Regions from separate parts of the Homo sapiens genome. Here region 2 is linked to region 1. Evidence: fine-mapped expression QTL. Tissue or cell type: prefrontal cortex. Region 1 holds a variant in brackets; the other region holds the start of a gene. All regions are shown on one strand. Distances are from middle to middle.

What was found. PIP is the estimated chance that this variant, and not a neighbour inherited with it, causes the effect. A credible set is the group of variants that fine-mapping cannot tell apart.
Region 2: it holds the start of CYP4F11, and the variant in region 1 is the best candidate, but not a certain one, in a credible set for the expression of CYP4F11 in prefrontal cortex (CommonMind, PIP 0.70).

The regions. Positions count from the first base shown.
Region 1 is chr19:15,892,227-15,897,555 of GRCh38, reverse strand. CYP4F2 (cytochrome P450 family 4 subfamily F member 2) reads left to right here. Exons shown (of 13, transcript NM_001082.5): 2 at 1-142; 3 at 1,906-2,050; 4 at 4,974-5,027; 5 at 5,120-5,247. Among named protein-coding and RNA genes, the nearest start is that of CYP4F2, 3.2 kb to the left of the region's middle. RefSeq lists an enhancer at 4,271-5,329. The variant A/T (reference allele first, on the strand shown) is at 2,292.
Region 2 is chr19:15,931,746-15,937,098 of GRCh38, reverse strand. CYP4F11 (cytochrome P450 family 4 subfamily F member 11) reads left to right here and starts at 2,570. Exons shown (of 12, transcript NM_021187.4): 1 at 2,570-2,888. The coding sequence starts at 2,691.

The DNA.
Region 1 (5,329 bases):
GCTGCTCCTCCTGCTGGTCGGGGCCTCCTGGCTCCTGGCCCATGTCCTGGCCTGGACCTACGCCTTCTATGACAACTGCCGCCGCCTTCGGTGTTTCCCACAACCCCCAAGACGGAACTGGTTTTGGGGACACCAGGGCATGGTGAGTGTGGCAGCAGGATGGGTCTAGGTCTCAGGATGGATGGACTTCCTGAGGGGTACGAGGCTTAGGGAGTGGGGGTGAAGGGGTGGGCTGGGATCTGGGGTGGCAGAGAAGCAGAGGAGGCATCTTACTCATTCCTCTGCTTATTCATTTCTGTGAGGTGCCTACGCAAGCCCTTCTCACTTCCTTGTCCTCCCACTCCAGGCCTGCATTGAATCCTTTTCCTGCCTGTCTTCCCACATTAATGCACCTCTGCGGGGCTCCTGGGCAGAGGGTTGGCTGCACAGAGAGGCGAGTCCCTGGCATTCCCACATTCTCCATTGCTGGACTCGAGGCTTCTTATGCCCACTGTCCAGGGTCCTCTCCTTGCCTGGACTATTTCCTGTTATGAGGGTACAGCTGGGCCAGAGGAGAGGCATGGGCCGTCTCCCACTTCCACTACACCCGAAGGCACCTTTCTCTTATATTCTTCTTCTTATCTCCCTCTTATCAATGAGACCTGTTGCCAAACCCAGATAAAAGTTGGCCACTCACTTCACCTTTCAGAAGCTTTCCTTGGCCTTTCTCCTCCCCGTGACCTTGCCCTCTGACTTAGACCGCTCTCCTCTTTGGGGAATGTGGTCTTAGTCTGCTCATTTGCAAATGGCAGGATTGATGGATGTGTCCACAGATAAAGTGGAAGGGTGCACAGGACACACTAGCACAGAGCCTGCTGCAGAAGCTGCTCCCAGGTGGGAGCCATTGTCCTGATGGACAGTTAGAGTCACCTCTGCTCCACTAGTGGCTGCTGAAAAGGGAAGGTCTCCCATGTGCAGAACCTTCTCCATGGGAGGAACTGGAGCCTCTGTGGATCAGCCAGGACATGAAGGCATGTGGGGACCAGCCTTAGGGACATGTCCTGAGGCGATACTGCTCCCCACAAATCTCCCCTGTGAGGACCTCCCCATATAGCTGCCTCTGGGCTGAAATGACTCCCAGAAAAAGAAAATCCTTCCTCTCAAGATAACTGGGCCTCTGTGAGTGGACAGTGCGTCTTCTCCCTCTGCCCTGGGATGCACCCTTGGGACTTGGAGATGGACCCAAGAGAGATAGAGCAGGAGGAATGTGGATAGATAGATAGATAGAGCAGGAGGAATGTAGATAGATAGATAGATAGATAGATAGATAGATAGATAGATAGCTAATAGGATAGATAGATAGATGCACAGATAGGATGGATAGATGGATGGATGGATGGATGGACAGGCACGTAGGTAGATAGATAATAGAATAGATGGATGCATGGACACATGGATGCACAGATAGCATGGATGGATGGATGGATGGATGGATGGATGGATGGATAGATAGATAGACAAATAATAGGACATATGGATGCATGGACACACGGATGCACAGATAGGATGGATGGATGGATGGATGATGGATGGATGGGTAGATAGAGTAGATAGGATGGATAGATTATGTAGACAGATGGAGTAGATATATATGATGGATAGATTAGACGGATAGATGGCTATTAATAGATGATAAGCAGACAGACAGATGAATATATGGATGGATGAAAGCACAGATAAAATGGATTGATGGATAGATGGGTAGGCAGATAGATATATAGATAGAAAAATTAGATAGATAGGATGAATAGATTAGACACACCCAGAAATAATGTTTGACCAACTACCTGGGCATCCCTTAGCCCAGTCAAGTAGACACCTAGAATTAACTATCACAGAAGGTAATGACCCCTGCCTTGCTTGCAGGTCAACCCCACAGAGGAGGGCATGAGAGTTCTGACTCAGCTGGTGGCCACCTACCCCCAGGGCTTTAAGGTCTGGATGGGACCCATCTCCCCCCTCCTCAGTTTGTGCCACCCCGACATCATCCGGTCTGTCATCAACGCCTCAGGTACCATCTGGAACAGCTGGTGGGGCAGTGCATTTGAGGCCTGCACTTCCGCTATCCCCAAGCTCCTGTGTGGGCCCTGCAGTACTCTGGCCTCTCCTTTCCTTCCCTCTCAGCTATCTTCATCTTTCTTTCATGTATTCATCAATTTCCATCTCAGCGTCTCCTCTCTCTATTGCCATCTACCCCCTGTTCTGGTGTTCTGGGCTGCCCTGGAACCCTAAGAGACCTCAACCCAAGGCCC[A/T]GTCCTGGAGGAACCCCCAACTTTAAGGAGATGGACCTGGATAGAGATATCCCCAACTTCATGGGATCAGGAAAGGGCCAGAGGGAGATGGATCACAGCCCAGGGAAGAACAAGGTCTCTGCTGGGGCAGGCTGGAAGGCTTCCTAGAGGAGGAGTTACTGGAGCTGTGTCTGGAACAATGAGTAGGAATGTTTGAAAGGAGAGTGCAGGGTGAGGCAATTGGACATCGTTAGTATTCAAGGCCCCTTGCCAGGCCTAGCATCACCTTGCCTGTCCCAAAGCCTAGAACAATGAGGAGGACTTGTGGCTGGTGGGGGATCTGGGCTGCTACTTCCATGATGTCCACCTCTGGTGGGTCAATTCCCTTTACCCCATCCTATAGCTTGTCTGCCCTAAGTTCGTTGCTCTCCTGCTGCAGGTCCCGGGGATCTCCAAGAGGAGACTCCACCCCAGCTTGGGTCCCTTTCCTTGACCCCTGTGCTTCCCATCGTTGGACGGGCGAGGCTGAGCAGGGGGAATGGGCAGCATCCTACAGAGACCATGGCTCTGACCTCAAAATGCTGAGTGACTCTGGGCTGGTACCCAGCTGTCTCTGGTTATTGAAGTCTCTTTCAGTTGTGAGTGGTGGAAACCCAACCTGGTGTGGTCTAAGCAAAGAAAGATAATCTATTGACTTTAAAGTCCAGGGAGGGTGGCCTTCAGGCATGGCTGGATCCAGGTCTCACACAAGGTCACTGGAAATCTGTCTTTCTCTCTTGGCTTTAGCTTTCTCCATGTCGCTTTTCCTATCAAGGTGGCCTTTTCCTCATGATGTCAACGATGAGTCCCAGAAGCTCAGTTCTTATGGGAAAGGCCACCTTTCCCCTAGAGTTCCCAGAAATGGCCCATGGTTTACTTCTCCTGGCCTGGATCACAGGACCAATTTTTCACCCAATCCCTGTGTCTCTGATTGCCCAGTCTTGGTAGGCCTGGGTCTTCCAGAGCTACTGTTTTGGGGGCACAAAGAAGTTTGTTGGTTAAGGATTCAGGCCATGGGTGCAGACAGACCTAGTCTTAGGCCTCAGGCTTGCCGTGGTCTGGGACTGTGGGCAAGTGACTTTATTGTTCAGAGCCTCAGGCTCTTCATCTGGAAAATGGGATGAATGAGAGCCCAGGGAACATGGTGTGTGGATCCACATGGGGAAAGACCTTTTCTGTCTGTGTAACTGAAGGACTGGAGAGTCCTGCATGGAGGATGTGAGGAGGCAGGGGGTGCTCAGCACTGACAGGAGGATGAGATGCTGCTTGAAATTCTCAGGGAGAGGGCTTCGACCTCTTCCCTGCAGATCCTTCTCTCTCACAGCCTAGGAGAGCATGAATTGGGTCCTGTGTGTTTTTCTCCAGATTCACAGCTCAGAAGAAGGTCTCCTATACACACAAAGCCTGGCGTGCACCTTTGGGGATATGGGCTGCTGGTGGGTGGGGCCCTGGCAGGCAGTCATCCACATCTTTCTCCCCACGTGCATCAAGCCTGTGCTCTTTGCTCCAGGTAGACATCGCACTGGCCAAGCTTTGCCCACAGCTGGGGTTGCTGTGCTGCCTCCAGCTGAACACGTGACCGATGTGCAGACAGGAGGGGCTGTGGTGGAGATGCCATTGCCTCCATCGCCCCTGGACTTCCACCTGTCTAACCTCTGTTGCTGTTTGCTCATGTCTGGGGCGTGTCTCTACAATGGCTGTTATATGGCCAGGTCTGCCTTGTATATTTACACCTGGGTCCTGGTTACACCTGAAATATGTTATACCTGGTTACATCTGGTATATAATTCCAACTGGGGTCATGTAGAGCTGGTCAAGTTTGGGGCTTATCTGTGGCCAAGGACATTTGGGGCATGTGAGGGCCTGTTTGGTTCTTGTCTCAGGTGCTGTTTGACACTGCCGTTTTCTCCTGGTGGTCCAAACATCTGGGCGTTGTGTGAGGTCTGGGGGTTGTGTGAGGTCTGGGACCCAGGGTCCCTATGTGAACTGTCTGAGACATTATTTGAGTCTTGTCTGAGGCATGTGTTATAGTATATTTGGGTCATGCCTGAGGAACAGTCTGGTTCACATGTTGGCTATGTCTGTGACATTAAAGGTACCATATTTATATTCAACCCAGAGCCTGTATGTGGAACACGCTTTTAAGATCATGTTAGACCATCTCATGTGCATGTTAGAGCACACCATCTCATGTTAGGAATTGTCATGTATTTTGTGGCCATGTCAGGACATGTGAACACATGTCAGGGTCATGTCTCATGTCCAGGTCCATGTCAGAAGATGCCATATCAGAAGATGTCAGAGAGTGCTGGGACAGACAGGGTGTCCTAGGTCCTTGTGAAGCATTCTGTAGAATGCTGAGCTGTGCTCAGGGGTTGCGGAACATGTTGGATCGTGTAGGAGGCATGTCAAGGCATGCTGGAACCCTGACATAGCTCCTACACGCCATGTTAGGCAGTGTCATTGCTGTACTGTGCTGCTGTAGCCTGGTCTGGTCTTCCCTCCCCTCCCCATCCTCCCTTCTTCCTCTGCCCTTGGCCCTCTTCCTGCTATGTGGGGCTCAGAGTGGGAGAAGTGCAAACCTCTTGCTGGGAGCCTCCACCCACCCCCAAAGTCCCTCTTTCACCTGCCTCCATGGCCCCTGATTGTCCTCATTTATGTCAGCTGCCATTGCACCAAAGGACAAGTTCTTCTACAGCTTCCTGGAGCCCTGGCTGGGTGAGTATCTGCAGGTGAACAGGGTTGGGAAAAACGTTGGGGGGCCAGGGGAGGGAGAGGTCCTTGCCCATGGCCCTTGGCTGCCCTGCTAGGGGATGGGCTCCTGCTGAGTGCTGGTGACAAGTGGAGCCGCCACCGTCGGATGCTGACGCCTGCCTTCCATTTCAACATCCTGAAGCCCTATATGAAGATTTTCAATGAGAGTGTGAACATCATGCACGTGAGTTATTTGAAGCCAAGGTCCCACTTGCAGCCTTGGGGTGAAAGGACAACAGAGAGATCTAGTCTGGAGTTTTGGCTCT
Region 2 (5,353 bases), 40 kb before region 1:
TGCTAGGAGCCCCATCCTTCAAGCACCCCCTCACCCAAGTCCACCCGGCAGGGCAATTCTGGACAGGATACAAGGAGGGCCAGGAGGGGAGCCCTGGGTCTGCTGGGTGGAGCATCCGGGGTGTGGGAGGAGGAGCCAGGTGCTGATTCAAAGACCTCAAGATATTTCCCCTCTGGGACCATGACATTGCCTGAGATTCCTCCATTTATACATGTCCCTGTATTAATATGGCATTGACCCTAATGAATGGGTGCAGAACAGCATGGCAGAGGAAAAAGGTTTGGGCTTGAGGATCTCACAAACCTGGCTTCCTGTGAGCTCTGTAACTTGGGCTAGAGGCCTGCCCTCTCTGAGACTCAGTTTGCTCTTTTGTTAAATGGATGCATTCCCTTCTCTGGATGCCATCACTCAGGTCTCTCCAACAATCCCAGGGCTCTGGCTCAGAGAACCGAGGGGAGGTTGGTGTGAAGGCTTTGGGCATGGTGACGCGGGTGAGCATCTGACATGAGCAGGTGCACTTGACCTAGAGTAGGTGGAACACAGTAGGCATGCTTTACCTAGAGCCCCTGCCACATAGTAGGAGTGCTTTGTGGAGAGTGCCTTGCACACAGTAGGCATTCTTTATGTCAAGAACTTTACATAGAGTAGTTTTACTTTATGTGGAGCACTTGACACACAGAAAAAACACTTTATATAGAGCATCTGGCACACAGTAGGTGTGCATTATGTAGAGTACCGGCCACACAGAGTCAGAGTTTATGAAGAGTACCCAGCATCCAGAGTAGGCACGCTTTATGTAGAGCACTTGACACACAGAAAGAACACTTTATGTAGAGCATCTGGCATACAGTAGGTGTGCTTTATGTAGAGTACCGGACACATGGAGTCACAGTTTATGAAGAGTACCCAGCACCCAGAGTAGGCACGCTTTATGTAGAGCACTTGACACACAGTAGGTGCACTTGACATAGATCACCAGGCACGTAGTAAACATGCTCTACATAGAACATCTGACACACAGTAGGTGTGTTTTATATAGAGCAGCAGGTGCAGAGTAGGTACACTTTACATAAGTTACTCCGCACAAATTTCACTTTATATAGAGGACCGAGAACAAAGAAGCAAGATTTTCTGTAGAGCGCCCAGCACACAGTGGACACACTTTTCATAGAGCACTTGGCACACAGTACACAACATGTATACAGAGTACCTGGCACATGGTAGGTGTGCTTTATTTAGAGTCCAGTACACAGTAAAAGAACTTTGCATATTGTCTTTTGCAAAGAGCAGAGACTGACACACAGCAGCTAAAGTGCTAGCTGCCAGCCCCTTCCCTTCACTCCCTCCTCAGAATCTTTCATCTGTCCCCATCTAAGGCCCATTTTCCTGTGATCCCTCCTCTGTCCCCCTCTAAGGCCTTATCTGACATCCCATTTCCCAGATGGGAAGCCTGAGTCCAGGAGGGGCTCACTACCCACAGTTAGGGCAAGGGGAGGGCAGAATAAGGACTCCACTCAGGGTCCCCCATCTCTGCCCTCCTGTCCCTGGCCCCATCCACTCATGGCCCCTCTCAGCCTTACCTCCCATCTCCCCTCTCTGTCCTCCTATGCTGAACCTAGCCTCCAGGTATTCTCCTCCAGCGGGGCTCTTTATCTCTAAAATCTGACCGGGTAATCCCCAGCACAGTTAGATAGTTTGTTCCTACTCCTGTCAGTCATGTCTCGACCCAGGCCCTGGGTTGCCTGGAGGCAGGACTTGAACTCCTGCCAGACTGTGAAGCCAGAGGCCAGGAGCTTCTGTCTCTGAATCTCCTAAGTCTGCACTGAGAAATGGTGCATGATGAACTCCTGGACCACATGTGGAGAGGAGCTCAGAACATGATCTGGCACAATGGTTGGCCTGGCCCCACTCTCTTGCCACCTGAACTCTCAAGTTCATGACTTTATCTGCCACACTCTTGCCTTGGAAGGGCAAGGTGGCTGTAAACTTTGGGGCTCAGAGTCACCTTTGACTCTTCCTCAAGATCCCCTCCCACTCAGGTGTGAGATGTTGAGACCTGCGGATCCTGTGCCCATGCTGTGTCACCCTGAGCTGGCTCCTCTGCACCCAGCTGGCCCTACGCCAGGTTTTGGTTGGTTGCCCAGGCTTGGAAGACACACCCAGTCCATGGGGATTGGCTCGACCAGCCCAGCCCAGCCTCGCCTCCCACAGCCTTCCGGAAATCAGGGGCCAGAGGCAAAGACCTCCTAGCAGAGGGGGAGAGGAGGGTATGTGGGACAAGCTGCTTCTGATAGGAGCCAGGCTGGCAGTGGCAGGGCTGGAGGGTCCTGGCCTGGGATGGGGAGGGGACTGCCCAAGGTTGGGGTGGGTCAAGGCTGCTGGCCTGGGAGACTGGTGATTTCCTGGTAACTGGACCCCTGGCAACCTCCCAGTGATTCAGGCTGGGCCTTTTTGGATTCTAATCAGCCTCTCTCTCTCTTTCCCTTTCTGTGTAACTGGAGGCCACTTGGCTGCTGGTTTTCATTGGGCATTTCTGGACTTTAGATCTCAGCTCTTGTTTACCCATCTCAGAGCCTTCCCTGATCTGCCTCCAGCACTGCCCATCCTTGCCCCTTTCCACTGTCCTTGGAGCTTCCTGGGCCCTTCCCTGGGCCTCAGGATCCCACCCTCCATCCCGTCTGCCCTGCAGGATGCCGCAGCTGAGCCTGTCCTGGCTGGGCCTCGGGCCCGTGGCAGCATCCCCGTGGCTGCTTCTGCTGCTGGTTGGAGGCTCCTGGCTCCTGGCCCGCGTCCTGGCCTGGACCTACACCTTCTATGACAACTGCCGCCGCCTCCAGTGTTTTCCTCAACCCCCGAAACAGAACTGGTTTTGGGGACACCAGGGCCTGGTGAGTTTGTCAGCAGGACGGGTCTGGGGTCTCAGGATGCATGGAGTTCCTGAGGGGCAGGAATGGGGCTCAGGGAGCTGGGTTTTGAGGGTGGCTGGGGTGTGGGAACACAGAGAAGAGAGGGAGGCAGCTCACTCATTCCTCTGCCCACTCACTCATTCCTCTCCCCGCTCACTCATTCCTCTGCCCACTCACTCATTCCTCTGCCCACTCACTCATTCCTCTCCCCGCTCACTCATTCCTCTCCCCGCTCACTCATTCCTCTCCCCGCTCACTCATTCCTCTCCCCGCTCACTCATTCCTCTGCCCACTCACTCATTCCTCTTCTCGCTCACTCATTCCTCTGCTCACTCACTCATTCCTCTCCTCACTCACTCATTCTTCTCCTCACTCACTCATTCTTCTCCTCACTCACTCATTCCTCTGCTCACTCACTCATTCCTCTCCTCACTCACTCATTCTTCTCCTCACTCACTCATTCCTCTCCTCACTCACTCATTCTTCTCCTCACTCACTCATTCTTCTCCTCACTCACTCATTCCTCTCCTCACTCACTCATTCTTCTCCTCACTCACTCATTCCTCTCCTCACTCACTCATTCTTCTCCTCACTCACTCATTCTTCTCCTCACTCACTCATTCCTCTCCTCACTCACTCATTCTTCTCCTCACTCACTCATTCCTCTCCTCACTCACTCATTCTTCTCCTCACTCACTCATTCCTCTCCTCACTCACTCATTCTTCTCCTCACTCACTCATTCCTCTCCTCACTCACTCATTCTTCTCCTCACTCACTCATTCCTCTCCTCACTCACTCATTCCTCTCCTCACTCACTCATTCCTCTCCTCACTCACTCATTCTTCTCCTCACTCACTCATTCTTCTCCTCACTCACTCATTCCTCTCCTCACTCACTCATTCCTCTCCTCACTCACTCATTCCTCTCCTCGCTCACTCATTCCTCTCCCCGCTCACTCATTCCTCTCCTCACTCACTCATTCCTCTCCTCACTCACTCATTCCTCTCCTCACTCACTCATTCCTCTCCCCACTCACTCATTCCTCTCCCCGCTCACTCATTCCTCTCCTCGCTCACTCATTCCTCTCCTCACTCACTCATTCTTCTCCTCACTCACTCATTCCTCTCCTCACTCACTCATTCCTCTCCTCACTCACTCATTCCTCTCCTCACTCACTCATTCCTCTCCTCACTCACTCATTCCTCTCCTCACTCACTCATTCCTCTCCTCACTCACTCATTCTTCTCCTCACTCACTCATTCCTCTCCTCACTCACTCATTCCTCTCCTCACTCACTCATTCCTCTCCTCACTCACTCATTCCTCTCCTCACTCACTCATTCCTCTCCTCACTCACTCATTCCTCTCCTCACTCACTCATTCCTCTCCTCACTCACTCATTCCTCTCCTCACTCACTCATTCCTCTCCTCACTCACTCATTCCTCTCCTCACTCACTCATTCCTCTCCTCACTCACTCATTCCTCTCCTCACTCACTCATTCCTCTCCTCACTCACTCATTCCTCTCCTCACTCACTCATTCCTCTCCTCACTCACTCATTCCTCTCCTCACTCACTCATTCCTCTCCTCACTCACTCATTCCTCTCCTCACTCACTCATTCCTCTCCTCACTCACTCATTCTTCTCCTCACTCACTCATTCTTCTCCTCACTCACTCATTCCTCTCCTCACTCACTCATTCCTCTCCTCACTCACTCATTCCTCTCCCCGCTCACTCATTCCTCTCCCCGCTCACTCATTCCTCTCCTCGCTCACTCATTCCTCTCCTCACTCACTCATTCCTCTCCCCGCTCACTCATTCCTCTCCCCGCTCACTCATTCCTCTCCTCGCTCACTCATTCCTCTCCTCGCTCACTCATTCCTCTCCTCGCTCACTCATTCCTCTCCTCACTCACTCATTCCTCTCCCCACTCACTCATTCCTCTCCCCGCTCACTCATTCCTCTCCTCGCTCACTCATTCCTCTCCTCGCTCACTCATTCCTCTCCTCACTCACTCATTCCTCTCCTCACTCACTCATTCTTCTCCTCACTCACTCATTCCTCTCCTCACTCACTCATTCTTCTCCTCACTCACTCATTCCTCTCCTCACTCACTCATTCTTCTCCTCACTCACTCATTCCTCTCCTCACTCACTCATTCTTCTCCTCACTCACTCATTCCTCTCCTCACTCACTCATTCCTCTCCTCACTCACTCATTCCTCTCCTCACTCACTCATTCCTCTCCTCACTCACTCATTCCTCTCCTCACTCACTCATTCCTCTCCTCACTCACTCATTCCTCTCCTCACTCACTCATTCCTCTCCTCACTCACTCATTCCTCTCCTCACTCACTCATTCCTCTCCTCACTCACTCATTCCTCTCCTCACTCACTCATTCCTCTCCTCACTCACTCATTCCTCTCCTCACTCACTCATTCCTCT